4 linked regions of the Homo sapiens genome follow. The protein of the gene in region 1 interacts with the protein of each later gene in a biochemical or structural test. Each region holds a gene or a part of one and is shown in the gene's direction. Other genes may lie near its edges.

Region 1 (7,336 bases):
AACATTAATAATTATGTATATAATTTTTGTCTTCCATTATTTATTCAGATTCTGGATTGTCATTTTTTATTTAGACTTTTTCCAAAACAAATCTTTATTTTTCCTATAGGTGAAAGCACTGAAAGAGAAGATTGAATCTGAAAAGGGGAAAGATGCCTTTCCAGTAGCAGGTCAAAAATTAATTTATGCAGGTATGAATTAAATATTAAAATTAACATGCCATGTCTTGATATTCTTTTAGTTTTAGAAATGTTATCTTATATATTGTAGTATATTCAAATTGTCAGAAAAATGATTGTACAAATAAAAGCAGTGAAAGAGCAGTCATTTGAATCTAATATTAATATTCAATCTTCTCTTTATTCACATTTGCCCTGTGTATTTTTCCATCAAATGGTATTAGTTTTGTTTTATCTTTTGTAAGCATCGTGTAACTGGCTTTTGTTTTTTTAATCAAACGGAGCTTTTTTTTTTAAATTGAATTGAAACCATTTATACTGATTGTGTTATTATTAGTATGCTTGGAATCATTCCTGTAAAATTATTTTAACCAAAACTAACTGAAGAGTACAGAAAAAACACATCACACAGACACCTACAGGAAGAAAAAAAATTAATATTCAGATTATGTAAAGAATTCTTAGAAATCAGTAAGGAAAGGATGACCAATAAAGCAACAAAGGATAAGAGTAGGAATTATACATTTGACTAGCCTCACTAATAACCAGGAAAATGTATATTAAAAATACATTTGATATCCAAATTTTTAGAGAAAATGCTTTCATTGTAGATGTTAGTAAGGTGGGTGTTTGATCACCCATGGATTCTTCTCTTTTTCTGAATAGTGTTTCCTAAAGTGAGACAGCCTGGAGGAAATGCTAACCTGGTGATTCAGTCCCATTATTTTTATAGGTCAGAATTCAGAAGCCTAAAGAAGCGGACATAAAATTCAAATTTCCAGTTTCTTGTTTTGGCCTGTTTTCTCATTCCTATCCATATTCCTTTCTGACTTAATGTTAGCAGCTTTTGATTCAATAGCTTTTTAAAGGTGGAAAACTAAATTCATGTAGCAAGAAACACTAGAGAGTCCTAGCTACCTAATAGTGACCTTCAGCACGACCACAGTTTTGTGTACTTCGTGCATTTCTAAGTTCTGTAGCATCTTGCCCTTTCTTGTGTATCATGTCGTTTTCTGAAGTACTTTTAGTATCTTGCTTTGATAGTGTTAGAACATTTCTGATTTATCAGATATCAGTATTTTGGGGAGCAGGAAATTTGTTTCTCTCCCTTTCTTCATATCATAAAAGAATATAGGTTATTTTCCAGAGGACCCCTGTGCAATCGGAGTATTGAATTTTCTTTATCTTCATGATCTCCTCCTTTTCAGGGCCTCTTTCATATTTCCTTGCCCAGTAAGTCTTTTATATAATCAATACATTTGTAAAAATTGATTGTCATTCTATATACACTATATAAGTTTGACATCTTTTAGTCAAATGCTTATGCTTTTTAGTTTTATTTGTTTGAGAGAGGGTCTTGCTCTGTCACCCAAGCTGGAGTGCAGTGGTGTGATTATACTCGCTGTATCCTTGAACTCCTGAGCTCAGGTGATCCTCCTGCCTCAGCCTCCCAAGTAGCTAGGACCATAGGCATGTGCCACAATGCCTGGCTAATTTTGAATTTTTTTTTTTCATAAACAGGGTCTTGCTATGTTGGCCATGCTGGTTTCAAACTCCTGGCCTCAAGCTATATTTCCTCCTCAGCCTACCAAAGTGTTGGGATTACAGGTGTGAGCCACCATGCCCTGCCACTTAGGAGTTGTTTTATTTTTATCTTGATTGATTGGTTTTTCTTTGGGAAAAGTATTAACTGATAGAATTTATGTTGGTGATTCATATTTTAATATTTCTGAAATATTCATATTTCGAGTAGAAAGTTGTTTTAACTGAAGTGTAAGAGAAAGATTATGCCTTAAATGATTTTTTTTTCTCTTAATGTATTAGGCAAAATCCTCAATGATGATACTGCTCTCAAAGAATATAAAATTGATGAGAAAAACTTTGTGGTGGTTATGGTGACCAAAGTAAGTTTCAACCTCATTCTGTATATCTTTATGCATGTAGGTCTTTTTAAAAATGATGATCACAAGTCCACACAATGGACACAGTTTATACACATCCATAGTGGTGTACACTTAACTACTATGAAAGGTTTTTAAGAATTTACCTTAAGTGAAACATAAAGTTATTAATGTTTTACATTAATTACACATTAAACTATAATATAGTTTTAATAAAATTTTATGTAAATTAAAACAATTGAAAAATAAAATGTCATGTTAAAATTATTTTTGCTACAGTAGTGAAATCATTATATAATTCTTTTAAAATGTCTTTATAAGTGGAATAAATGTTTATTCTGTAGTTTTTGTAAGCTTGCCTTAAATAGACCTGCTAAATTACGTACTAGTCCTAACAGATTCCTCAAGACAGAAAAGGCATGAAAGCTTATTATTACAGTGATAGTTCTTAGTGAAAGAATATGTTTTTAGAAACTAAAAAAAGGGAAAAGATAACTAAAGAAATGATGGAATGATTTTTATGAGGAAGTTTTTTTTGTTTTTGTTTTGTTTTTTTTTTTTTGAGACGGAGTCTCGCTCTGTTGCCCAGGCTGGAGCGCAGTGACGCTGTCTTGGCTCACTACAAGCTCTGTCTCCCGGGTTCATGCCATTCTCCTGCCTCAGCCTCCCTAGTAGCTGGGACTACAGGCGCATGCCACCACGCCCGGCTAATTTTTTTGTATTTTTAGTAGAGACAGGGTTTCACCGTGTTAGCCAGGATGGTCTCGATTTCCTGACCTCGTGATCCGCCCGCCTCGGCCTCCCAAAGTGCTGGGATTACAGGCGTGAGCCACCGCGCCCAGCCTGGAAGTTTTAAACAGATACTTTTTTGTGATTTAGTAGGCTGGAATGTATTTGGAACAATTTATAAAATTAAATTTTTTTTAAAGCAGAGAATGAACATGGATTTTTTTAAGAGACTATTTATATACTTGTTTATTTAAAGATATATAATGCAGTGTAGAATTAAGAGACAAATGGAGAAGTGGTACTCATGACATTCATTTTTAGGATTGGATTGTCATAATCTGAGAAAGAACAGTGTTACTTGTAGCACTGAAAATGAGTTTAAATCACTAATTGAAACCACTTCATCAAAGGCCAAAAGTGGATTAAATGTGGGTTTTTTCTCAAAGTCACAAAATAGTTAATAGTAATAGAAAATAGAGTCGAAGAAATAAATTCTAATTACCACATGCTTTTGTACTGGGAGCAAGCAGCTAAATAGTTTACAAGTGTTGAACATTTTTTAATTCATTAAGAACCATGTTGATTTTGCTATACTTAAGAACTTAAGTCATTATATGTTAAGTTTAAAAACAAGCAGAATCGTGAGGAAACCTTGTATCATCTAGGTTTTTTTATTCAACTGTGGTAAAATATAACAAACTTCCAGTTTAATCATTTTAAGTGTACAGTTCAATAACATTATAGTTACATTGTTTTGCAGCTATCACCATCATATAAGTGGAATCCTATGGTATTTGTCTTTTTGTGACTGGCTTATTTCACTTAGCATAATGTCATTGAGGTTCATCTGTCTATGTTATAGCTTGTGCCAGAATTTGCTGAACTTTTAAGACTGAATACTATCCTATTTTCCTATCTAGTTTTAGCATACATAGTACATAATGGGAAATGTGATAGCCACACATTTAAATATGTTTTGTTACTGGTCTTAGTTTCTTTTAATATTACAGTGATCCTGACTGTTTAGAACACAAGAATTAAGCAGAAAAAGTCTCAATAGGTGCGTGTGTTTGAGGAATAGATACTTGAAGCCTATCATTATATTGCATACAGTCCTTTTGTTTTTCCTTAAAGTCTTTTATTCCTAATATTACATAGGATTCTAATGATATTTATGATTGTTTTATTTGAAGTTAATAGAGGACAACTATGAAAAGGGAGGGAATGCTGCTACAGTAAGGCATTATGGAAGCACTGAGAAATGACCTTATTAATACAAAGAAGGGAAAGGAAAAAGCTATTAAGATCAAAAGCAAGAATAAAAACTAAAAAGCAGAGAAGGGCTTGGTACTGTTTAGAATAAAGTATAAGTAGCTGTTCTTGGCAGTAGGAACCTTGAAGGGAAGTTACATTGCAATATTATTTTGATAACAATTAAGGAAAATATTAAATGAGTATACCACTTTTAAAAATACATTTTTATCTAGATTGGTTATTATAAAGTTTTGGTGCTTAAGACTCTAAATTTTCACCTTTGTGAAGCTCCAGTTTATCCAGAATAACTGAAGATCCAGAATGATCTCAGGATTTCAGCTCATTTTAGTTTTAGAACAGTAATAATCTGCAGAATATTATATTGGCTGTTAAGAAAGTTAAGCTAAATAGGAAAAGAAGGGAGTAATGCTACTAGTATTTTTTAAAAACCTATCACCTTTCACTAACCTTTTTCCTAGTGTCTTCTTTATTAGTTCAAATCAAAAAGACAAGGCAGCTCATTGGTTTTAGAGTTTGTTTATGCCTGTGGCAAATTATGTTGAATTTAAGCCTTGTCTTCCACTAAAACAGCTACCTTTTGTCCTTGGGAAAGTTATGAACTAAACAGGTAGCGAGCATTGAGAGGCCTTAGGAGAAGACTAAAAATCATGTATGATTTTTACACATGTACAGTTGACCCTTGAACACCACTGAGCTTAGGAGTGCTGGCCTCTCCCCTACAGTCAGAAATCTGCATATACCTTTTGACTTGCCCAAAACTTACCTACTAATAGCCTACTCTTGACCAGAAGCCTTACTGATAACGTAAACAGTGGATTAATACATGTTTTATATGTTACATGTATGATATACTGTATTAAAGTAAGCTAGAGAAACTATTAAGAAAATCATGGCCAGGTGTGGTGGCTGATGCCTGTAATCCCATCGCCTTGGGAGGCCAAGGTGGGCGGATCGCTTGAGCTCAGGTGTTGGAGACCTGTCTGGGTAACATGGCGAAACCTTGTCTCTACAAAAAAAAAAAATACAAAAATTTAGCAGGGAGTGGTAGTGTGAGCCCGTAGTCCCAGCTACCTGGTGTTGGGGGCGGGGGCAGTGGCTGAGGCAGGAGCCTTGGGAGGTTGAGGCTGCAGTGAGCTGTGATCATACCACTGCACTCCAGTCTGGGCGATAGAGTGAGAACCTCTCTCAAAAAGAAACAAAAGAAAATCACGAGAGAGAATATTTTTAGTGTTCATTAAGTGTAAGTGGATCATCATAAAGGTCTTCATCCTTGTCTTCACACTGAATAGGCTGAGAAAGAGAAAGGGTTGGTATTGCGGTCTCAAGGTGGCAGAGATGGAGGAGGTAGAAGGAGAGGCAGGCACACTCAGTGTAACTTATATTGAAAAAAATTATCATGTAAGTGGACCCAGTGCAGTTCAAACCCTTGTTGTTCAAGGGTCAACTAATTGTTTTTTTGCTCTGTGGGAAGCTTTATGGCTCTATTTCCAGTTCAGAAAGTGCTGAGCGTGTGGAGGTAACTTAATTTGGCCTTTATTTTTCTGCTTAATTACATATATGTCTGAAAGTATTGTGAACCTTTTTGTACTTGGATCTGTTGATTTGTAGTCAATTTTGGGATTTTCCTCCCTCTTCTAAAAATACAGTACAACAGAATATTTGACATGTTTATAAATAAACATTTATACTGCCATTTCAAGAACATTATTTTGGGCTGGATGTAGTAGTTTATGCCTGTAATCCTAGCGCTTTGGGAGCCCGTGGTGGGAGGATTGCTTCAGGCCCGGAGTTCAAGACCAGCCTGGGCAAGGTAGCAAGACCCTGTCTTTAAAATTAAAGAAAATTATTTTATTAATGCTTTTAAGTGGTATTAGGTACCTTAAAGTTACAACTTAGGTACATAAAGTTTTTTTGGGAAAATGATACGGTTTATATCTATATATATATATATATATATCTATATATCTATATATATTTCAAATTTTTTATTTTATATTAACTTGATATGAAGATGGAAATTGTTGGGTAAAATTAATTGTGGTTGATAGTTAAGATTAACATACGCTGTCATGAGCTTTGAAAGAGTAACCATGAGTCAGATTGTTAATATTGATCATTTATTGTGTCATTTTACAAAATTATTTTCAAGTTATAGGTTGTTATTAGTGCTATGTTTGTGGCATCCTGTAACGGTACAGTCTAATTAGAGATCAGGCAGTATGTAGTATTTTATTGTAATTATTTTGTCTTTTAATGTGTTTAGCCCAAAGCAGTGTCCACACCAGCACCAGCTACAACTCAGCAGTCAGCTCCTGCCAGCACTACAGCAGTTACTTCCTCCACCACCACAACTGTGGCTCAGGCTCCAACCCCTGTCCCTGCCTTGGCCCCCACTTCCACACCTGCATCCATCACTCCAGCATCAGCGACAGCATCTTCTGAACCTGCACCTGCTAGTGCAGCTAAACAAGAGAAGCCTGCAGAAAAGCCAGCAGAGACACCAGTGGCTACTAGCCCAACAGCAACTGACAGGTAGGAACTGGATTCTAGGACATTCTATCTCAAAATCCGTGTTTAACAGGAACTTCATGCATTTATTTTGATTATTGTTTTGATCAAACCGACTATATCTATTACGTTAAGCTTTTTTTAAATGTTTGACTAAAACATATGCTGCGTCTGTTTTGATAGCTTACTAAGGAGAATATAAGTACAAATTTTCATAATCAGATTTCTGTACTCTGTTGATTTGGGCAGGGTGGGGGGCAGTGGAAAGGAGAAAGCAGGTGAAAGTCATTTTTTTTTTTTTGAGTAGAAACGTTAGGAAATACAAATAACCAAAATGAATAAGGATTACATCATGACATTGCCACCCTGATCATCATTTGTACTTGATCTGTATTCTTTGTGGTCATTGTCATATATATCATAAGCATCCTTCCATGTTAGTAAATCTTTCCCGTAGTTATATAGCATTGTGTTTGGTTCTGACATTTGTTAGCTCTTGTAACCTGAACCTATGGACTATTTCAGTTTTTCACTGTTGTATCTGTATCTTTGTGAACTTGTGAGAAATTCAGGCTTCTGCCTGTGTGGATCTTTAGGGGAAAAAAAAGGAAAAGAGTGTTGAGATATTTGAGGAGCAAGAAATAATTTCTTGTGGGAAGTTGACAGCAGAGACACCTCAACTAAGTGGCTGCTTAGGCAGTTAGGATTATTGAGCAGTTTAAGACAAGACTTTTGTTTTTCTCC
Region 2 (7,336 bases), on another chromosome or scaffold:
GTTTCAAGCACATTCGTGCATCCCTTCCTCCAGTTATAAGTAGTCTTTACACTTGATGCTTGTACATGATAAAGCCTGAAATTCATGATCCAAGATTCACTTTATTTTTGATGATCATTTGATAGTTTTGACACCTTGCTATATACATCATGTATTTGGCCTTCACTGATTCAGAAATCCTTACTAGTAAGCGTTGACGTATAACTAAATTTGTAGCAGTCACTATGGTTCTCACTTTCATTGTTACAAGAAATGAAGTTGAGAAGCAAAGCAAATAGGAAATTCCATTTCTTGTAAAAATGAGAACCTGAGAACCACAGTGACTGCTACAAATTTAGAGTTATATGTCAATGTCATTATGTCAAGGATTTCTGAATCAGTGAAGACCAAAAACCTAAATTTAAGCAAAAATACGAGATTTTGCAGACAAATGCAAGAGTATTTTAATCTTTAGTCATGATGTCACCTTTCAGTAAATAATCAGATGAGTCCTATCTACATCTGGAGAACCATTTCACAAAAGTAAGAAAGGAGCTAGAAGAAAGTTGCAGCAGCATCTAATGAAGCTCCATTACTGTATAGATGAAGAAACTGAAGCCGGGAGAGGTTAAGTGACTTGTGTAGGGTGGGGACAGTGAGCCTCTTGACTCAGGGTGGTACACGCTCTAGCAACCTGTGCTGCCAAGTCCAGTTAGCCCAGGGCATTTTGAAAGAGAGCACGTAGTACCCATATTAAAAGTTAAGTCCAGTTGTTTGTGAAAAGGAGAAACTTATGCCACCTGGAAACTAGACTAGTTTTAAAACATCCACGGCAAAGTTGTTCTGGCATGCCTATCTTAAAGAACCTTTCCAATGGATCAATATATATTTATTTTGCTTCTCTTAAATCCATTTAATTTTGCATTTGTATTTAATGAGCTCTAGGAAAGTATTTTAAGATGATGCCTAACCTTGCACTGAGCAGGTTTTCAGATACGTATTATTGATAGAGTGTGCTAGTTAACATCCAGATTTCCTCTGCACGTTCATTTCTGGAGACCTTTAGTCTATAGACTAATCTGAGCAAGGCATTGTGAACAGTAGTGTCATAAAGATGAATGGTACTGACCATTAGGGAATTGATAGGCTGGAAGATGAGATGGAATTTGTATGTAAATCTCTTAATACAGAGAAGGAAATGGTAAGTATGATAATAGAGGTGAGCACCCAAAAAACTGTGGTCCCAGACTTGGTGGCGATGTAGAAAAACTTAGAATAATTTAATTAGATAATATATCAAATTTAGAAAGGTACAGGTGGGGTAAGAGCTTAAAGGAGCAAGTATTAGGTAACTCCTCAAAATTGTCCCTAACCTTTGAACGTGACAGTAAGTTGGCCAATGTGAATCTCAGTTGCATGTGTGTTTATTTTCCAGTTTGTTTATTTTATCTAATGAGACAGTAAACATCTGGAGTCATTTGCTGGGTTTCTTTCTCTTCTTCACCCTGGGAATATATGACATGACATCTGTGTTACCTTCAGCAAGTGCGTCCAGAGAAGATTTTGTAATTTGTTCTATTTGTCTTTTCTGCTTCCAGGTAAGTCATTTCACAAATACTGCTGTTGGTAAAGAGAACTTTTTGACAGGCAGTCTTGGTCAGGTGACCTTACCTCAGACCTACCACTTGCTTTAAAGAGCCCCGGAATGGCATGTTGGTCAGCTTATTGATTTTCATAACATAAACACCAAACGATGTGTTCTTATGAGAGTATGTTTGAAATCCATTAAATTACAAAGATTGAGAAGAATTTGTTTCTTTCCTCTTCTTTTGGGGCACCTCTGCTTTAAGATTAATTAAAAAAATAGGAATCTTTGATTGCATTCTATTATCTGGCTGAAGTACAACACTAGTGCCTACTTAAAACTTGTTTGGGAAGATTTCTCATCTCTTTCCTCCTGTTTGTGTTTGTGATTTTTGTATTTGTTATTTCCATACTATATTTTACTGTCCTGTTTTGCTGGTATTGATTTTTTACTCTGTTGCTTTAATGTTAATTTATTTTGAACCCACTGGCCTGGCTTCAAATACGTTGTTTCTTTTCCTCTCTACCTCCTGTATTTGTTAGTTCCATAGCACTGGCATTTTTCAAGAATCTGTAAAAATGTCTTTAAAAGTTAACATTTATTAGATTTCAAACAGATAATTTTGAATCAGAAAACAAATGTGGACTGTAGTTCTGTTGACATTTAAAACAACTTTTTCTGCTTCAGAGAACATAAAAAAACACAAAAATGAAAAACTTATTATCCCCCTTTCTCATGACAGACACAGAGTAGCTATTCCCTGCAGTTAGCCTGTTGCTGCTGAGTTTGAGAGGTGAATCTCATAACTCAGCTGCACAAATGTCGCTTTCATCATGTATCATTTTATTTCAGAGAGTCATCATTTTACTCAAGTTTAAACTTTGGACTTCAATGGCCAAGAAACACAGCAAAACAAATCTCTCTTCCCCTTTTTTATTAATTCCAATTTTTGGAATAATATTTTAATTTTCTTTGAGGGAAAGCATAATCTATTTTTGTTATTAGAAAATTATTTTTCCTTCAAATATTCTTTAAAAATAAACTCTTTCTGAGGTTTAATTTTTGCCCTGATTACAGCCAAAATATCCCTTGAAATCCATAACCAATTTTATAATGGAAATGAATCAATTTCTTTTTAAATTTTTAGGTGCATCTTAGTATAGATTAACATGCTATTAATAATCATTAAGTAAAAACTGGCTTCTATTCTTGTTAGTTATATGCATATTATCTACTTTGAGAATCCCTGCTCTTTTCCTCCATCCCTAGGCCTATTCTTTATGCCTTCACCACCTGCCACAGCTGATGTTAGTTCAGAGAATATGTATCAATTTCAGTATTGACCTAAGAAAACAATACATTGCAAAACTAAAAAGGATTAAATAATTACAACAATTTCCAATAAAGAAACAGACCCAAAATATTACAGTGACTTGCCCAGGATTATTCAGCAGGGCAGTAAAATCCTGTTCTCCTACTTGCTAGTGCAATGATCATTGTTACAATACATGCTGTACAACTTACTAAAGACAGATGAGCACATCTTCCCTACTTGAAAAGACCACTTCTTATCAAATTATAACTTGTTCACTTGAGTTTTCCAGATTCTTAGGGTCAGTGGACAGTATAGTAAACCATAGATATATTTATTAATATTGATTTACATTTAATATTAAAAGACATAACATTTTTCTCACTCCTATGCTTCTGTATGCTTTAGTGCTTTCCTCGCAACCAGATAAATAGAGTACATTCTGAACAATAGAATGTAATTGAGGGGCTTTGAACCTTCCCAGGGTATTTGTATTTTGGAGAAGAATGTTAGAATACAATAATGCCTTGATTTGATCCATTTACATTCAGTTAACAAATATTTGTTGAATGTGTCCTATATACATCCAGACACTATACAAGGCATCGGTAAAACAGTGCTGAACAGAACCAACCTGGTATAAAGGTCAAGCCACTCGTAGGTGTGCAGAAGAGACAGTGAGGCAGGGCATTTAAGCAGGAAAAAAGAAGCAAGACACACTTTCTTAGCACTTTCTGGACTTGCAGGTACTAGTTTTTGTGGTTGAAACCTAGGAGAATGGAGAAAGATAAGGCTGAAGAGATTGGCAGGGATCAAATCATGAGGTATTTTGTTATCATGCCAAGGAGTTTCGATGTGAATGTAACACTGTAATTATCTGTCTACCTTGATGGAGTGAGGTACTCCATAGAAGGAAACTTTCCATTATAACTGAAACATACCCAATTTGCCAGATTATCTTTCAGTCCATTTTTAAACTCTAGGAATAACATATTCCTTCTTAAACAGGGCATACTAGGTATGGGTTAACTTTAAAATCTGGGGTTTTCTGTTAATGCTATTTTACTTTTCCCTTGGATACCATAGTTTCTTTTTTTCCTCTTTTTATTTTCTTTTTCACAATGAAATGAGCTTTATGTTTGTTTCTAATTATTACTACAAGATATAATCATGTAGAAATTTAGGCAAACAGAAGTTTGTGGAAGAAAACGTCACCTGAAATTCCACTTTTCAGAGGTAACCACATTGGACATTTGCGTTAAACAATGAGTTTAACCCAAATGCGTATGTTTGTGTATGCATAGCTACCTTGCACCTGCCTACCTGCCTGCTCCCTTACCTGTCTACCTACTTCCAAGCTACAGTCATCTCTGCTTGCTATTTTGCGACCTGCCCTTGTGTCATTCAACATTGTGGCAATGGGATCTTTCCCCATCAATGAGAAATATACACTTTTATGTTCTCCTGATTTATGGTGCTTAATCTCAAGGATAATCTGAGAAAACAAATAACCAAACTTCTTTGAGTTACGTTTAAATAACTAACTTAGAATTAGTTACTGATTGGTTGCTTAGTAACCAAAAAGCTATAGACTATTAAGGATTTTAGACAATTGATGAAGCAATGAAGTTGTGGCAAAGTACATTGTTATTGAATACTGATATTGAGTCTATAGTAACTAGATTTGTTTAATGACCAGAATATAAAATATTAATAGCTAGATGACCATGTTACTGCCTTAGCAATAGCTTACAAAATGTTTATCATTTGTAACTACTTTATACTGTTTATTTGTCCCATTGCCTCCACCCCACTGTCACTGTCTCAGTGTTTGCTCTCCAGGGCTATTTCTGTAACCTCCTGTTTCAGCCCTTCTAGTCCACACCTCTGTTGGGGGGCACTTAAAATCTTCAGGAGTATCTTATCATACCCATAATATTGAAGTTAAAACCCATTAATGTATAGGAAATGTCATAATCATATTATAAAGAATATGATGCTTTTCCTTAATCCCTGCCCCCAGCCATAAATATGTGCACACCTTTTTTTATGTCCTTGGTGAATGCCAGCCCAACTTTTAAAATCTGCCTCAGGTGAACAGCCCTTCTCTGATACTTTTCTTCCCACCAGTCCCACCCTCCAAATGCACATGTACCTCCACAGAGTCAATATCCTCCCACCTTTTCCAATTATGCTGTGCACTGAAGTACAGTAGGATTTGTTACTGTACTGTTTGTTCAGTGATTCTGTATCACCTCCAATGTATGACATACAGCAGGTACTTAATAGCTGAAAGGCATTCTGCCATAGAACCTTATCAATTATCAGAACAGCTGATTGAATCAGATTAGCTTTACTCTCAGTTTGGCAACCATATAAAGTTAGCAAGTCATCACTGTTTTTTAAATTATTATTATTATTTTTTGAGACAGGATCTCACTCTGTCACCTAGGCTGGAGTATAGTGGGGCAGTCACAGCTCTGTCACCCAGGCTGGGGTATAGTGGGGCAGTCACGGCTCACTGCAGCCTCGATCTCCCAAGCTCAAGTAATCCTCCTGCCTTAGCCTCCCAAGTAGCTGGGACCACAGGTGCATGCCGCCATGCCCAATTTTTTTTTTTTTTTTTTTTTTTTTTTAAGAAATGAGGTCTCCCTATGTTGCCCAGGCTGGTCTCGAACTCCTGCGCTCAAGAGATCCTCCCACCATGGCCTCCCAAAGTGCTGGGATTACAGGCATGAGCCACTACTACACCAGCCTGTTTTTTCTTGAAGGCAATAAAACTGTGTTTACCTTAGAAATTAAAAGTAAACTCTATACAATGAATCTCATACAGACATGAACATTCTTAACTGAAAAAAAGCCAATTGTGGAACAGAATGCATAGTGTGATTTCATTTAATTTTAAAATGTGTGTGTATATATATATATATATATATATATAATGTGTGCATGTGTATAGACTAATATATCACAGGTGTTTGACATATGTATTGAAAATATCTGGAAAGACACATAAAAAATGTTATCACTGGCCACCTCTGGGGAATAGATTGAGTAAGAGGGGCTTATATTTATGTTCTTTGATTTTTTTAAGGCTATATATTGCTTCTATAGTAAATACTCTTTAAAAACAAATTAATTCATGGATCAAAACAAGCCTCAGATGATAGTTTTAAAACATTTGCATTGTATAACTTTCCCATTACTGTGCTATTTATTTATAATTTTCATTTTGTAATATAGTTATTTTAAATTTTCTCCTTCATTATTATTATCTACATTTTACCCATGAGGGAACTGAGGCTTTCCCTCATGGCTCTACATGGCTCTACATGTAGAGTGAGCTCTACAGTAGCCATGTAAGGCACAGAGCTAGAATCCAAGCCCATAAATGTTTGAATTGAAAGCCTAGCCTCTTAACTACTTCCCTGAATATCATGCATAAGTTGCTTTAGTTTCTTTAGTCACTTTGTTAATTTGTTTTTATTTTTCACAGGTCTGTATGCTTTGCTCTGTGGGCTATCATCTTTTTTCCTGCCATCGGTCAGAAAAAACATGTCGAAGATGGATGGCATTAGATTATGCAGGAATTTCTATTGGAATACTGGGCTGCTATGTCTCAGGAGTATTTTACGCATTTTATTGTAATAACGTAAGTAGATGAAAACATTTTACATTCGACCTTTCATATTGGTCTTGGGTTTTCTTGCCTTGGTTCTTTTGAATTTCTGAATAAGTACATAATTAACTTATAGACTAAATAGAAGAGTCTCGTATAAGCATAAACTTATTTTTCAGAATGGCCCTGTCATCTCTAACATCTGTTATCAGTTCCATACTTACTTTACTAATTTTCTATTGGAAAATATATATACAGTTATTTTCTGAAACTTAATGTAGACATTAAATTATTAATGTTTTCACTAAATCTATATGGCTGCGTGGTTCCTCAGATATGCACATTATATATCTTTTATTTGTGTGTTTATAGAATTGAAGTTAAAATTAACACTTGTTAAAATTATGAAGTTGGTTACTGCTTACCATTTCTTTTTTCTCCTCTCAGTGAAAAAAAATACAGGAAAATATATCTGAATTTATTAGCCCATATTCTTCTGTAAAATATGTTTTCCTGTCTTCAGTCTTATGTTTGGGGGTAGGCTTGTAAGACAGACCAGATAGGAGTCAGTGTCTTTAACAAATGTGAGATGTGTCTTTTCTGAATTCTGGATCAACTCTGCTTTCTGTCACTAAGTTCACACAAAAGTCAGTTTTTGCCTTGTGCAAAGCAGCATTTGCAACACTGTAATCAGATAATACAGCACCTGACCTAAAAATATTGGCCAACCAAACCTTACGGAGTAGAACCCTTAACTCATCACCTCATGTTCCAGCCAAGAAGACAAATTCAATGTTCCCATGGTTTCAGTACATCTCAAGTTCTCCCTTTCAGAAAGTCC
Region 3 (7,336 bases), on another chromosome or scaffold:
ACAAAAAATACCCATTATGTCTTTTCTTTTTTTTTTTTTTTTTTTGAGACAGAGTCTCACTCTGTCGCCCAGGCCGGAGTGCAGTGATGTGATCTCGGCTCACTGCAACCTCCACCTCCTGGGTTCAAGCAATTCTCCTGCTTCAGCCTCCCGACTAGCTGGGACTACAGGCATGTGCCACTACACCCGGCTAATTTTTTTATTTTTAGTAGAGACGGGGTTTCACCATGTTGGCCAGGCTGGTCTTGAACTCCTAATCTCAGATGATCCGCTTGCCTTGGCCTCCCAAAGTGCTGGGATTATAGGCATGAGCCACTACTCCTGGCCCATTATGTCCTTTCTTGTAGATAAACCAGTTGTTATCGTTTTGCCACATTTGCTTTCTCTTGTTCTCTCTATGGATTGCTTGGTTGGTTGATGAGCTATTTGGAAGTAAATTGCAGACATCCTGACATTTCATCTCTAAATACTTTTAGCGTTAGTCTCTTTGAGGTTAGGATGGTTTCATGTCATTCCAACACTGTTTTACACCTAAAGCAAATTTATTTTTATATAATTTTCTTACACTTTTCATAAAAGAGCTCTAAAACTGTGTACAGGTCAGAGATTGTTTCTAGCAGCATATACTGCTAGTGCGTGGTTAAGATTTAGATCTTTAAAGTATAATGTTAGCTTTCTTGTTATATAATAATACTTCTATGCCTACTTACGGGTAAATATGAGTAAAAGTTTTGCCAATGTCAGTAGGAATTTTTTTATGAGATCAGTTTTCACAATGTGTTAATTATTAAGCACTCCCACTACACAGTCACTATCACAGGCCCTTGGAATTTGCTTATTGAATTTGTTTACAGTATTCCTATGAAGCATGAAAGAGATTAGTCAAGTGGATAACAGGGTGGCAGTGATCTCTTAGTCCATTTAGTGTTGCTTTAACAGAATACCTGAGACTGGGTAATTTATAAAGAAAAAAAGGTTTATTTGGTTCATGATTCTTGTGGCTGGAAAAGTCAAGGTTAGGCCTCTGGTGAGGGCCTCAGGCTGTTTCCACTCATGGTGGAAGGCAAAAGGGAGCCAGTGTGTGCAGAGATCACATGGTGAGAGAGGAAGCAAGGGCTGGGGGAGGTGCCAGGCTCTTTTAACAACCAGCTGTCTTTGGAACTAATACAGTCAGAAACTTACCCCTGAGGGAGGGCTTTAATCTATTCATGAGGGATCCACCCCTGTGATCCCAACACCTCCCATTTGACCCCACCTCCAACACTGGGGATCAAATTACAACATGAGGTTTGGAGGGGACAAATATCACAACCATACCAGGTGATGATGGTGGTGGTTGTGGTGGTGGTGGTTGTTGGATATAGACTAAGCCCTCTACCTTTTAAAAATTATTTTGTGAAAAAGAAAAAGGTTTTTCTTGTGACTTTGAATGACATTTGTTGTTTTTAAAGCTATAAACCTGCTTGACGTCTTGCACATCAGACTACTTGTTGGATCTCAGATTGCAGCAGAGATGCGGGAAGCCATGTATAATCAGTTGGGGCTCACTGGCTGTGCTGGAGTGGCTTCTAATAAACTGTTGGCAAAATTAGTTTCTGGTGTCTTTAAACCAAATCAACAAACAGTCTTATTACCTGAAAGTTGTCAACATCTTATTCATAGTTTGAATCACATAAAGGAAATACCTGGTAAGACAAATATATTTGAAAAGTACATATACGTCTTATTTTATTTCTTTTAATTTAAAAAATTATAGATACAATGTAATTAATTCTTAGGTAGAGTTGTCTGTGAGTTTGTGTGCATGTGTGTGTGTGTGTATACTTGGTTCCTGGAAAAAACTAAGAAAAACTGTAATGTTTTCTCAAGCAAATTTGGATTAAGAAATATGTGAAGGTACTTTTCTTATTTTATCTACTTTTGTATGGTTAGAATATGGTCATGAAAGTTATAGCCTAGAAACATATGGTCCTTTATTTCCAGTCCCTGGGTCATACTCTTATACTGTACATTGCCTCTAGAGAGGGGAGTTCGTCTTTTACTAACTCTTTTGGGATTACATATAAAATATTAAGGCTACAATGGACTTTCCAAAACATCTAGGCCAAGGTCCTCATTTTAAAGATTAGGAAACTGATTTCCATGAGGAGTTCGGTGACCTATTTAGGTCATGGGGCAAGTTTGTATCTTTGAAGATTAAATACCCAAGTTTTTATAGGCCATCAATATGTTGAACTACATTTCTGTGGTATTGCTAGGGAATAAGATGTTATAAAAGAGTTCTGTGGAAGTGAATTTCTAATACCACTGAAACTTAGATGTCATACTTCACATTTTTAACTGATACTTGCGTGATTCCAAAATGTATTATACACTGCCTTGCCTTCCTTAGTATAGTATAACTATAATTTGAAGTTTTTTGGATGACTTTGGTAGTGCATTCTGAAGAACAATGTCAGGTTGTAATAAACTGAGGACTATATACTGGTGCAAAACATTCTTACTTGGCTTTACTTTCGAGTTCTTGTATCTTTTTTTTTTTTTTTTAACAGGCTTTCTCCTTTCTCACTTATTGCCAAATTGCCAACCTTCTTTTTTTTCTGCTGTGAAAAATCTGTCACTCTACTTTAATAGTTCCCCCTACATAGCCATCTCCTCCAACTTACTGCTTTTACTGTGCAAGAAAACCAGATAACTGTGGAATTACTGTTTTTGAATGAAAAGAATAAGGAGACATTAAATAGCCTGTTTTCTCTTGTGAATAAAGTATGACCGAATTTTAGTGCAAGAACTTTGTGACAGTTTTGCTAGCAAGATTTTTTGTTTGTTTGCTTTCTGGCTCATAGTTGTATTCTGGATGGTAAATGTTAGATATGACTTATGGATAAATGTGTGGTGGTGCGTATAGGAATCAGTTAGGTTACCTAATATGTACACTTAATTTATTTTAATTGCTCTAGTGGCAGCCTTTTTGTATATTAATAATAATCATGATTTCTGAATATTTCTGGAATATTACATAACAGGTGGTAAAATTTTTGTTTTAGTAAGACAGCATTTATTGGCTGTCTCTGTATTCATTTTATTTTACTGCATTTTGTGAGGACTTCAAAGAGGTGCATATAATTCAGGAGCCCTGAGTGGAAGAACAGCAACCTAGTTTGCAATGGGGTTTGATCTTTGCAAAATACAGTAGTCCCCCATTATCTGCAGTTTCACTTTTCACAGTTTCTATTACCTGCAGTCAACTGTGGTCTGAAAATAATAAGATATTTTGAGAGAGAGAGGCAGAGACCACATTCACATAACTTGTATATTGTATATTGTTATAGTTCTGTTTTATTATTATTGTTAATCTCTTACTGTGCCTAATTTATAAATTAAACTTTATCATAGGTATATATGTAATGGGAAAAACAGTACTGTATATATAGGGTTTGATACTGTCCATGGTTTCAGGCATCCACTGAAGGTCTTAGAATGTATCCCCTGTGGATAAGGGGGGACTACTGTATAAATTATAGAACTTAAAGATAAGATTGATATATTTATAATATTTTAATTAGCTTTGTTTTAAGGAGAAAAGCTATTTTAACATTGTATGCATTTCTTTTTATTTAGGTATTGGCTATAAAACTGCCAAATGTCTTGAAGCACTGGGTATCAATAGTGTGCGTGATCTCCAAACCTTTTCACCCAAAATTTTAGAAAAAGAATTAGGAATTTCAGTTGCTCAGCGTATCCAAAAGCTCAGTTTTGGAGAGGATAACTCCCCTGTGATACTCTCAGGACCACCTCAGGTACATGATGATACTTATTTTAATTAAGTACTGGTTATCACATTATTTGAGATAAAGATTTCTAGTTTTAGTACCATGTTCTTACTATTCTAGTTTGCTTAGTATGTGATCCCTTTCCTATTAGAAGGCTGATTTATTATTAATAGATTGGATTAATAAGTATTCTTAAATGGAATCTTAAGCATTGATATTTTGATATCTTAAGTTAGCTACTATGATTGAAGACAGTGCAACTTAATTTTAATAGCCTATAATGCATATATGAGGCAAAATATTTTAATCTGTTAAAAATCTTGTTTTCAGAGTAGTCCAGTGATTTAGCAAATGGGAAAGGTATAATCACCCAGTTAACATTGACTGATTTTTTTGCTATGGGACAAGCACTTTACTGAGTGCTTTAAATATGTTAGTCCATTTAATCTTCACAACAAAGCATCAAGGTAGGTAGTACTGTTGTTTGTCCATTCCTTCTTACTTCTCTTCTTTCCTTCCTTCCTTCCATTCTCTCTCTCTCAAGATGAGGATACCGTACTTTAGAAAGGTTAAATAACTTGTCCAAGGATAAACTTAGATTCAAGTCCTAGGTGATTAAGAACTCTTGCCATAATCATACAATAAAGCTTGGAGTTGGTACTAGAGCTTTAGAGTTTTCATAACTTTGAATTATTTTATATTAACTGTTTTATATTAACTGTTAATACAGTAATATTTTATATTAACTTTCTAGTGAGTACAATAGCTTGCAGATAAAAAACTGTTAATATAAAAGTGAACTAAATGGCTCAAACTAAGGACAAGAGGTAAGTTAGTGAAGAATGTATTGAATATTTATTTGACTGTACACTGATAATAATTAGATATAGTTATTTGAGTTTGTGCTAATCCTTATTTATGCTTCTTTGATAGTCCTTTAGTGAAGAAGATTCATTTAAAAAATGTTCATCTGAAGTTGAAGCTAAAAATAAGATTGAAGAACTACTTGCTAGTCTTTTAAACAGGTGATTTTCAATCCATTTTGCCAAGTCATCCTATGTATTCATTCTATATACGGTATGTGGAAAGAATATTTGATGTTCCATCTTGGAACTGACAGATTATCTGGAGACTAAACAATGTAAAAATAATTTATCATGGGATTTCTCTGCTTTATAAACTGTTGTAAAGATGGTAATAGGGGGTCTTACCTAAATTGAATTCATTGGTCTTAATTCTGTTAACACTGTGGTTATGCTATGGATCTAAAGCTGCAGATAGTTACCTAAAGGGGTTTTATGGATATTTCTAACATTTCTAGACTTATTCTGGTCTTCAGGTGAGAAGAAGAAGTTTTAATTTTTCCCTGTGGCAATTGCAAAGCCTCTGCCCTCAACCTAATAGTTAGTTGCATTTCATTAAGTTAGTACCATGCTAAATACAAATACATGCGAAATACAAAACCCGTGAAATTAACCATTTATCTGTGCCTCTGCTAATAGTTACTTGCATTTCATTAAGAAGAAAAAAATGCAAAGAGGAATAATACTGTCATAATTCTAAAACTCCTGATACAGGAACAACTATATAAATTTGTGATTGTTGAGGATAGGAAATTATTAAAGTAACAGTGATGGAAGAAGCAGAAGAACCCTTGTATCTCTTTTGCCTCAGACTGTAAAATAAAATGGAGTCGAAGGAAAGAATGGCTAGCTGGCGCTGTGTGTGAGTAGGGTGAGTGACTGCAGGTGTGTGCAGGGTTTCTGATCTGTATGTAAAGAGTATCAACTGGGGTTATAAATATATGAGTAGTACAAGATAAACTGAAAAGGAAATTTAATTTTGTGGTGCTCCTTGTCATTATACATGTATTTCTCAATATTCCATATTCCACAGATGAGTATTATCTGTTTTCGTCCCATTTCTTTGTTTCTCCTCTTCTTGTTAGAAATTTCTCAAATTGTGGTTTCAGGGCTCTAACAGTTTAGAGTAGGTGTGCTTCTCTAATGATTCTAGGAGGACTAACTGTATTTAGAGAAAATGGTTTTTGGTTGGTTCTAAGTCTGAGAAAACTGAAGAAGTGAAATTTCCTCCAACTTTGCTGTCGTGTGCAATGTGGCACTCAAATGTCTTGAGCAGAGCCATGCAGCTCATTGTTGGCTGCATGCAGCTGGGGCTGGCTGTATGACTGGCCTCCCGTGATATGACTCAGGCTGGGCCTGCGAGTATGCTAGTGAAACTGGGTCATTTGCTTCAGCTAAATAGAAGACTACCCTGAAATGCCTAACCTTTGGAGACAGTTCTTCACATAGAAAAACCACAAGAAGTATAAGTTTTACAGGTTCTCTTATTTGAAGAGTCAACCCAGAAGTGAGACCAGGTGCTCTAAACCTGTGACATACAAAACCTGTGAAATTAACCATTTGTCTGTATCTCTGCTTCCCGGCTCCTTTTCTCCCACACCACGGGCCCTTATTTCAGTGACTGAATTATAACACCATCTAAGTGACTTGCAAAAAAAAAAATTACAGGAGTGTGTGTGTGTGTGTGTGTGTGTGTGTGTGTGTATTTGTGTATAATTAGTTTTGTTTTCTCTAGAGTATGTTATGATTAATACTATAGGTATGTAAGAAATGTAAAACCGTATTATTTTTAATCCATCCTCTAGGCACTAGTTTAAGATTGCTTACGATACAGCCTTTTTCTAATGTGTCTTAATTAGCATATCATACTCTTTGAATTGCATAATTAATATAACACGTTTAACTGGAAGATATTTAAACTAGTAACCATTTAAGGTATTTTATCCTAGTTAAGCAGCCATCGAGAAGTTTTGTCACAAAGCAGTAAGAGATAGAAAAAATTATTTACTACAGAACTATTTAATTTTTTATGTTTTTGCGATAGGGTCTTGCTCTGTCACCCAGGCTGGATGGCAGTAGTGCAGTTAGGGCTCACTGCAGCCTCAGCCTCCTGGGCTCAAGCAATCCTCCCACCTCAACCGCCAGAATAGCTGGGAAGGCACCTGCCATCAAGCCTAGCTAATTTTTAAATTTTTGTAGATGAGGTCTTGCTATGTTGCCCAGGCTGGTCTTGAACTCCTGGGCTCAAGTGATCCTCCCACCTCAACTTCCCAAAGTGTTGGGATTACAGGTACGAGGCACCGTGCCTGGCCCAGAACTATTTTTTTCAGATCAGAATCTTCAAGTTGAGTGTGTTTAACAATGTGCAATACTTGCATTTTATGTTTGAGATTTGGTTTTATATGCATTGCCATGTGTATAAAAAGGGAAATGTTATCCTTTAATGACATTTTTTCCAGTACTACTTAAGTGAATTTGTCATATCACTAAAACCTTTGTTTCAACACCAAAACCAAGACATTTGCATGAAACTCTTCTAAAAAATGCATGTACTCATATTGTATATTAATTATATACTAAATATAGTATATGCTCTTTTAAGATATTGCTCTAATAAGCTATCATATAATGGTAATAGTGATTACTCTTTAACAAAAGTAATGTCATTTTGTAAAAAAAAATCTTTTTTTTGGTAATCTC
Region 4 (8,051 bases), on another chromosome or scaffold:
CCACGCCCGGCCGAGTTTATCTTTTAATGGTTTTTTGTTTGTTTGTTTGTTTTTTGTTTTTTGTTTTGAGACGGAGTCTTGCTCTGTCGCCCAAGCTGGAGTGCAGTGGCGCGATCTCAGCTCACTGCAAGCGCCACCTCCCAGGTTCACGCTATTCTCCTGCCTCAGCCTCCCAAGTAGCTGGGACTACAGGCACCCACCACCACACCTGGCTAATTTTTTGTATTTTTAGTAGAGACGGGGTTACACCATGTTAGCCAGGATGGTCTCGATCTCCTCCTGCCTCAGCCTCCCAAGCAGCTGAAGCTGCAGGTGCGCACCACCATGCCTCACTAATTTTTGGTTTGTTTGTTTTTTGAGACAGAGTCTCACAAACCAGAATGCAGTGGCATGATCTCAGCTCACTGCAACCTCTGCCTCCCAGGTTCAAGCAATTCTCATGCCTCAGCCTCCCAAGTAGCTGGGATTACAGGGAGGCACAACCAGCACTGATTTTTTTTTTTTTTTTTTTTGGTAGAGACAAGGGTTCGCCATGTTGCCCAGGGTGTTATTTTTATTTTATTTATTATTATTATTATTTTTTGAGATGGAGGCTTGCTCTGTTGCCCAGGCTGGAGTGCAGTGGCATGATCTTGGCTCACTGTGACCTCTGCCTCCCGGGTTCAAGCGATTCTCTGCCTCAGCCTCCTGAGTAGCTGGGATTACAGGTGCTGCCACCACCCCTAGCTAATTTTTGTATTTTATTTTTAGCAGAGACAAGGTTTCATCATGTTGGCCAGGCTGGTCTTGAACTCCTGACCTTGTGATCCACCCACCTCAGACTCCCAAAGTACTGGGATTATAGGGGTGAGCCACTGTGCCTGGCCTGTTATTTTTATTTTTTAGTAGAAACAAGGTCTCACTATGTTACCCATCCTGGTCTTGAACATCAGGGCTCAAGCAATCCTCCTCCCTCGGCCCCCCAGTGTTCTGGGATTACAGGCGTGAGCCACTGCGCAAGATTGAACAATTTTTAAAAAATTACCCGGAGGCCGGGTGCAGTGGCTCACGCCTGTAATCCCAGCACTTTGGGAGGCTGAAACAGGCGGATCACCTGAGGTCAGGAGTTCAAGACCAGCCTGACCAACATGGAGAAACCCTGTGTCTACTAAAAATACAAAAAAGTAGCCAGGCATGGTGGCGGGTGCCTGTAATCTCAACTACTCGGGAGGCTGAGGCAGGAGAATCCGAGAGATGGAGGTTGTGGTGAGCCGAGATCGCACCATTGCACTACAGCCTGGGCAACAAGAGCGAAATTCCTTCTCAAAAAAAAAAAAAAAAAAAAAATTAGCTGAGTGTGGTGGCACATGCCTGCAGTCCCAGCTTCTTGGGAAGCTGAGTGGGGAGGACTGCTTGAGCTCAGAAGTTCTAGGCTGCAGTGAGCCATGATTGTGCCACTGCACTCCAGCGTGGGGAAGAGAGTAAGACCCTGTCTAAAAAAAAAAAGAAAGCTGGGCATGGTGGCTCATGCCTGTAATCCCAGCACTTTGGGAGGCCGAGGCGGGCGGATCACGGGGTCAGGAGATCGAGACCATCTTGGCTAACACGGTGAAACCCCGTCTCTACTAAAAATACAAAAAATTAGCCGGGTGTGGTGGCGGGCGCCTGTAGTCCCAGCTAGTCGGGAGGCTGAGGCAGGAGAATGGTGTGAACCTGGGAGGTGGAGCTTGCAGTGAGCCAAGATTGTGCCACTGCACTGCAGCCTGGGCAACAGAGCGAGACTCCATCTCAAAAAAAAAAAAAAGAAAAGAAAAGAAAAGAAAAATAAATGTTGTCCTCCCAAAGTGCTGGAATTACTGGTGTGAGCCACCGACCGCTCCTGGCAGAAATGTTAAATTATTTAATCTCATAACCTCATCCGACATGAGGAAGATAGTCCAGGAGAGCGTCATGGTGGAAGAGGATTGAGTTAGGCAGAGGAAGAGAAGTCCCTTCTGGTAAAGGAGAATGCCTAGGCAAAGGCCCAGAGGTGAGCTGGAAATACTTCCAGGTAACTGAGGCAGAGGTGGAAAGGTGGGTGATAACAAGAAACGGGGTTTCTGAAACCCTCAGAATACTTAGAACCTGAAATAGAAATTTATTAGGGCCTATTAATGTTAGGATCTCCTTAGACCAGGCTGAGGAACCCCATAGGATTTTATTCTTGGAGAAGTGGGATGGGTCTCTGCCACTTTCCAGCTGTGTGACTTTGGCCCAGTGTTGTACCTTTATTTGAGTTATAGGGTATACAATTCCTTATTCACAACAATGAGCTGTAATTTTCTTTTCTTTTCTTTTTGAGACGGAGTCTTGCTCTGTTGCCAAGCTGGATTGCAGTGGCGCAGTCTCGGCTCACTGCAACCTCTGCTTCCCAAGTTCAGGTGATTCTCCTGCCTTAGCCTCCTGAGTAGCTGGGATTACAGGCATGAGCCACCGTGCCCGGCATACTGAGAACTTTCTAATCACATGATCACCCCTACAATCTATAGAGAGTGTTATTCTTATCCCCATTTCATAGATAGGAGACTGGAGATCAGAAAGATTGAAGTTTGGGTTGCACTGTATTCTTCTTTTATTTATTTATTTTTTTACTTTATTTATTTATTTTTGAGACAGAGTCTCGCTCTGTCGCCCAGGCTGGAGTGCAGTGGTGCAATCTCAGCTCACTGCAACCTCTGTCTCCTGCGTTCAAGTGATTCTGCTGCCTCAGCTTCTCAAGTAGCTGGGATTACTGGCACACACCACCACACCCGGCTGATTTTTGTATTTTTAATAGAGACGGGGTTTTGCTATGTTGGCCAGGTCGGTCTTGAACTTCTGACCTTAAGTGATCCACCCGCCTTGACCTCCCAAAGTGCTGGGATTACAGGTGTGAGCCACCGCACCTGGCCCAATTCTTTTCCTTTTTTTTTTTTTTTTGAAACGGAGTCTTGCTCTGTTGCCCAGGCTGGAGCACAGTGGCATGATCTCGGCTCACTGTAAGCTCTGCCTCCTGGGTTCACGCCATTCTCCTGCCTCAGCCTCCCAAGTAGCTGGGACTACAGGCGCCCGCCACCAAGGCTGGCTAATTTTTTTAAAAATTATTTTCAGTAAAGACAGGGTTTCACCGTATTAGCCGGGATGGTCTCAATCTCCTGACCTCGTGATCCACCCGCCTCGGCCTTCCAAAGGGCTGGGATTACAGGCATGAGCCACCGTGCCTGGCCTTTTTTTCTTTTTTTAATAAGACAGGGTCTGGCTCTGTTGCCCAGGCTGGAGTGCAGTGGCGTGATCCTAGCTTACTGCAGCCTCCAATTCCTGGGCTAAAGCAATCCTCCCACCTTGGCCTCCCAAAATGTTGGGACTGCAGGCCTGAGCCACCCGTCCAACCCATGATATTTCAATTTCAGTCTTGGGGTGGGCTGTTTCCTCACCTGGAGGCTTCTCCTCCATCAGTCTCTGTGTATCTCATTCCAACTCCTTCTTTTTTGAGGCAGAGTCTCCCTCTGTTGCCCAGGCTGAAGTGCAATGGCGAGATCTCGGCTCACTGCAACCTCCACCTGCCGGGTTCAAGCGATTCTCCTGCCTCAGCCTCCCGAGTAGCTGGGATTACCGGTGCCCATAGAGACAGGCTTTCACCATGTTGGCCAGGCTGGTCTCAAACTCCTGACCTCAAGTGATCCGCCGGCCTCGGCCTCCCAAAGTGCTGGGATTAGAGGCATGAGCCACCACGTCTGACCCCCAACTCCCATTTTTTGAGGCTTGTTTTAACTGTCACTTTGTGTATCTTCTTTGTGGATTGCACAGACCAAAGTACGCCACTATTAACTGGTGTCCACCAAAGTGGATCCCCAATCCCCAGGTCCCAATTGGGTGCATTGGGTGCATCCTCTTTTTTTTTTTTTTTTTTTTTTTTTGAGACGGAGTCTCGCTCTGTCGCCCAGGCTGGAGTGCAGTGGTGAGATCTCGGCTCACTGCAAGCTCCGCCTCGCGGGTTCACGCCATTCTCCTGCCTCAGCCTCCCGAGTAGCTGTGAGTACAGACGCCTGCCACCATGCCCGGCTAATTTTTTGTATTTTTAGTAGAGACGGGGTATCACCGTGTTAGCCAGGATGGTCTCGATCTCCTGACCTTGTGATCCGCCCGCTTCGGCCTCCCAAAGTGCTGGGATTACAGGCATGAGCCACCGCGCCCGGCCCAGGTGCATCCTCTTAAACAGCTCCTACCTAGGGTACGTGGTGATGGTGGCGGGGGGGTGCTTCAGGCACCAAAACAGGCCAGATCGTGGGGGCCTCCAATACCCAACATTGAATTGGGATTTTATCACGTAAGCTCTGGGGAGACAGAGAAGGTTGGAATTTTTTTTGTTTTGCTTGAGACAGGGTCTCTCTCTGTCGCCCAGGCTGGAATGCAGTGGCTTGATCACAGCTCACTGCAGCCTCGACCTCTTGGGTTCAAGCGATCCTCCCGCCTCTGCCTCCCAAGTAGCTGAGAGGCGCGCGCCACCACCCTCGGCTAATTTATTTTATTTTATTTTTTTTTTTTTTATAGAGACGAGGTTTTGCCATGTTGCCAGGCTGGTCTCCAACTTCTGGGATCAAGCAATCCTTCCGCTTGAGCCTCCAAAGTGCTGTGATTGCAGGCGTGAGCCACCGCGCCTAGTTTAGGTTGAGCAGCGAAAGGGATAGGGCCCAGTGCTTTCTCTGCGAGGTTCAGTTGGCCTGTCCCTGTCCTATCACCGTTTGTCACCGTTTGGGGAGCGCCACGGAATGCCCTGTCTCCAATCGAGAGGTGCACTCGTCGCCCTGGCAACGGAGTCCGGAAGAACCACAGAGACGCGGCTCCAGCGTACAGAGCGGCCGCCCTGGGCCAGCAAGGCACCGAGCGCTAGAGAGGCACGTCTAGTCGATTGTCACGTGGCAGGCCAGGGGAAGGCGGGACTTCCGGCGGCGAGGTAAATTTTTTTTTTTTTTTTTTTTTTTTTTTTAATTTTCTTCCGGTGGCTGGTCTCCGGCGGCCCCGTCCCCGACTGGGCCCCGTGCCCCCCCGCCCCCGCGGCCCCCCGCCGCCGGGCCAGCCGCCACCATGAAGAAATTCTTTCAGGAGTTCAAGGCCGACATCAAGTTCAAGAGCGCGGGACCCGGTCAGAAGCTCAAAGAGTCCGTGGGGTGCGTGAGGAACGCAGGGGCTTGAGGCCCTGCGGGGCGGGGACGGCCGGGGAGAGAGATCTGGGGCCTTGGGCGGCTCGGGAGATCGGAGAGGATGAGGGGCTGGGAGCGGCACGCGAGGGTCAGGGGAGGGGGAGAGGCGCCGGGGGCGGACGAAGTCGGGCCGAGGGTGGGCGTCAGGGGGAGGGGAGAGAGATCTGGGGGCGGGGCAGGAGGGGGCGGGTATGACCCGGGGGCGCGGCGGGGGAGGCGAGGGGAGGGGAACTAGCGCAGGGGGCGGGGCGGGAGGGGAGGTCTCGGGGGCGGGGCCGCAGGAGGGTCCGATGCAGTGGCGGGGGATTAGGGCGACGGGGCTGTAGGCAGTTGGGGGTCAGTGGAACGACCTTTGGGGAAAAACGGGATCATGAGTCCTGAGCCGGGTGGTGAGGGAGAGCTCTGTCTGGGGACCCGGCTGGCCGAAGAGGCCGGGATGATTTGGGGCAATCTAGGTGACCATGGATGGGAGCTGAGCTTGGAGGAGGACGCACAGCTGTGGGGTGGGGTGGTGAAGAGTTGTTTTGAGGTATCCATGGGAAGAGGGGTTCTGGATTTGGTATCTGGAGCACGTGGGAGGCTGATGGGAGACTAGAAAGAGTCTGGAAGGCCAGGGAGGCCGGGGTGGGCAGCGTCGTCAGTGACCTGGGATGTCCTGGCGAATTGAGAGGGAGGGGCTGAGGAAGGTGTGTGAGGAGAGTGGAGGTGAGGGATTCTGACAGATGGACTCTTACCCGGGAGGGGCCTGAGAGGAGAAGACGGGTGAGACAGACGCGTCTTAGCAGGCTGGGAGAAAGAGCTTCTCTGCGAGGCTTCTCTGCCACGTCACTGTGCCAAGTGGATTATGGAAGTGGGAGAGGAGGGGAAAGGAGATAGATGCCGGGCAGGCTTCCGGATTGTCTAGGGAGGACTTGGAGAGAAGGGCCTGAGCAGGGCTGAGCCAGCTGGGAGGGCCGGGGAAGAAGTGGAGCTAGGGAAGGTGCAAGGCTGAGGGCTGTTGGGTTGAGAAAAGGGAAACTGGAGAGCTGGGGCCGCTGCAGGGAGCTGGCTGGCCAGAGGGTGGTGGGGACTGATGGAGAGGGACTGAGGAAGTCAGCCAGGCAGCCAGGACACGGGTCTGTAAGCAATAGTGGAAGGGATTGTGAGGGAGTGGGGGCTGGGAGAGGCAGGGAGGTGGCAGGAAGTGGGGGTCAGGAATCACGGGGCAGTGGGGTGGTGATGGAGGTAGGGGCATAGTGAGGACGTCAGGGTTCCTGGGGGAGAGCAGGAGAGCAAAGGCTGAGTGAGGGAGGGAGAGGGGTCAGGGAGAGAAGGGGGCAAATCGGGGGAGCCCTTCATTGATTCAACCAATAGTGGGTGGGGGGTGCTGGGGCCACTGGGACTGGGCATGATAGGAAGGATGCAGGGTATCGGGGTGATGGCTGGATCAGCCCAGAGCCTGGGCGGAGAGGGGAAGGTTGGAGGGGAAGGTTGGGAAAGGAAGCGGTGCGGAGGTCCCTTGTGGAGCGAGACTGCATATCCAGGGTGTGTGGGGTGGGTGGGCACCAAGTCCTGTTTTAGGCTGCAGTGGTGGACAGGAGAAGGCCTCTGCTGTCCCAGGGCTCACCTTCTAGAGGGAGCCGATGGACAAATAAACCAACAGACCTTGGATGAGCGCTCAGGCGATGAGTGCTTGGATGAGTGCCCAGGGCCTCCAAGGAGGGTGAGCAGGGGCCGTCAGGTGGTTTGGGAAGGCCTCTCCCAGGACACAGTGAGACTCAGCTGTGGGGAAATCTGCCCCTCCTTCTCTCCCTGCGGCAGCTCTAGCCCTTTCCAGACCCCCATCCTCCTCCCACTCCCCCGGAGAACATTCTGGGCAGAAGGTGCAGACAGTGCAGGGGCCTGCAGTGGGGAGCAGCTGGGGTGTGGGAAGAACTGCGGGGAGCCCAGGGGAGACAGGCCACGGGAGGGCAGTGGGCCAGGCTGGGAAGGGCTCTCTGGCCAAGGGAAGCTTTAGGATTTTGCAGTGGGAGGGCGTTGTGCAGTGGAGTGATGCTGACGCTCCCTGGCTGAGGTTCCAGAAGGGTCCCTGTGGCTGCCCAGGGGGGCAGGGTCCATGGCTGGTTGGGGTGAGGTGCCCTGGGAAATGGCATTTTGTTGGAAAGACCCAGATATCGGATGAGGCCGGGGTGGGTCTTCATGAGTCATCTCCTCTTCCACCCAAGATGCTCAGCTGTGGGAGGACTAGATAGGCAGGGGTGGGACGAGGAGGGAGGGCTGCCCGGGTATGTAAGCAGAGCCAGAGGAGTATAGGGCTTGAACTGAGAGCCTGGCCTCCCAGAAGGTTTTAATAGACCTACGGCACAGAAATTGACACAGCCCGTAAGTTCATGGGAGGGGCCTGAGAGGAGACGGGTGAGACAGACGCGTCCGAGCAGGTTGGGAGAAAGGGCTTCTCTGCGAGGCTTCTCTGCCAGGTCACTGTGCCACGTGGGTTACGGAACTCTCCTTGGTGTAGGGCTCAACAGGGTGGAGCCACGAGTCCATGAGCTCTTCGTACTTGCACAGCCCTAGGCCTGGCATGGAGTGGCCAGGGCGAGGCTGGTTCTGCTGTCCGCTCTCCCCAGGGTCCCGCCACGAGGGTGGCGTGGCATGGGGCACATCGCCCGGACTTCCTGTCCCTCTTGGGTTTAGGAATGGGATGGTGAGGCCTCCCTGGCAGCTTGTTAGGAGGAGTAAACCAAGCGAGCCGACCAGCTCCCAGCAGGGTCCTGGCACACAGTAGGTGCTCAGCAAACGAAGCTGTGACCTGAGGGTGGAGAGTCTTATGGCAGGGAGGGAGGGAGGATGTGACACCCCTTGAGTCTCCTCAAT

What was found.
Region 2: the proteins of RAD23B (region 1) and PAQR3 form a complex in vitro, tested with the Homo sapiens proteins (one study listed by BioGRID).
Region 3: the proteins of RAD23B (region 1) and POLI form a complex in vitro, tested with the Homo sapiens proteins (one study listed by BioGRID).
Region 4: the proteins of RAD23B (region 1) and UBXN6 are reported together in a solved structure, tested with the Homo sapiens proteins (one study listed by BioGRID).

Annotation. Positions count from the first base shown.
Region 1 is NC_000009.12:107,300,032-107,307,367, forward strand, and holds part of RAD23B (UV excision repair protein RAD23 homolog B), read left to right. Parts: intron 1-109; coding exon 110-191; intron 192-2,003; coding exon 2,004-2,083; intron 2,084-6,347; coding exon 6,348-6,616; intron 6,617-7,336. UniProt on the Homo sapiens protein: Multiubiquitin chain receptor involved in modulation of proteasomal degradation. Binds to polyubiquitin chains.
Region 2 is NC_000004.12:78,929,362-78,936,697, reverse strand, and holds part of PAQR3 (progestin and adipoQ receptor family member 3), read left to right. Parts: intron 1-1,414; coding exon 1,415-1,577; intron 1,578-4,038; exon of another isoform or gene 4,039-4,112; intron 4,113-6,372; coding exon 6,373-6,528; intron 6,529-7,336. UniProt on the Homo sapiens protein: Golgi-scaffold protein which modulates its interactors acitivies by anchoring them to the Golgi apparatus. Functions as a spatial regulator of RAF1 kinase by sequestrating it to the Golgi apparatus.
Region 3 is NC_000018.10:54,279,216-54,286,551, forward strand, and holds part of POLI (DNA polymerase iota isoform a (long)), read left to right. Parts: intron 1-1,451; coding exon 1,452-1,688; intron 1,689-3,621; coding exon 3,622-3,800; intron 3,801-4,527; exon of another isoform or gene 4,528-4,600; intron 4,601-4,706; coding exon 4,707-4,798; intron 4,799-7,336. UniProt on the Homo sapiens protein: Error-prone DNA polymerase specifically involved in DNA repair. Plays an important role in translesion synthesis, where the normal high-fidelity DNA polymerases cannot proceed and DNA synthesis stalls. Favors Hoogsteen base-pairing in the active site.
Region 4 is NC_000019.10:4,454,729-4,462,779, reverse strand, and holds the start of UBXN6 (UBX domain-containing protein 6), read left to right. Parts: upstream 1-4,985; 5' UTR 4,986-5,082; coding exon 5,083-5,165; intron 5,166-7,478; exon of another isoform or gene 7,479-7,559; intron 7,560-8,051. UniProt on the Homo sapiens protein: May negatively regulate the ATPase activity of VCP, an ATP-driven segregase that associates with different cofactors to control a wide variety of cellular processes.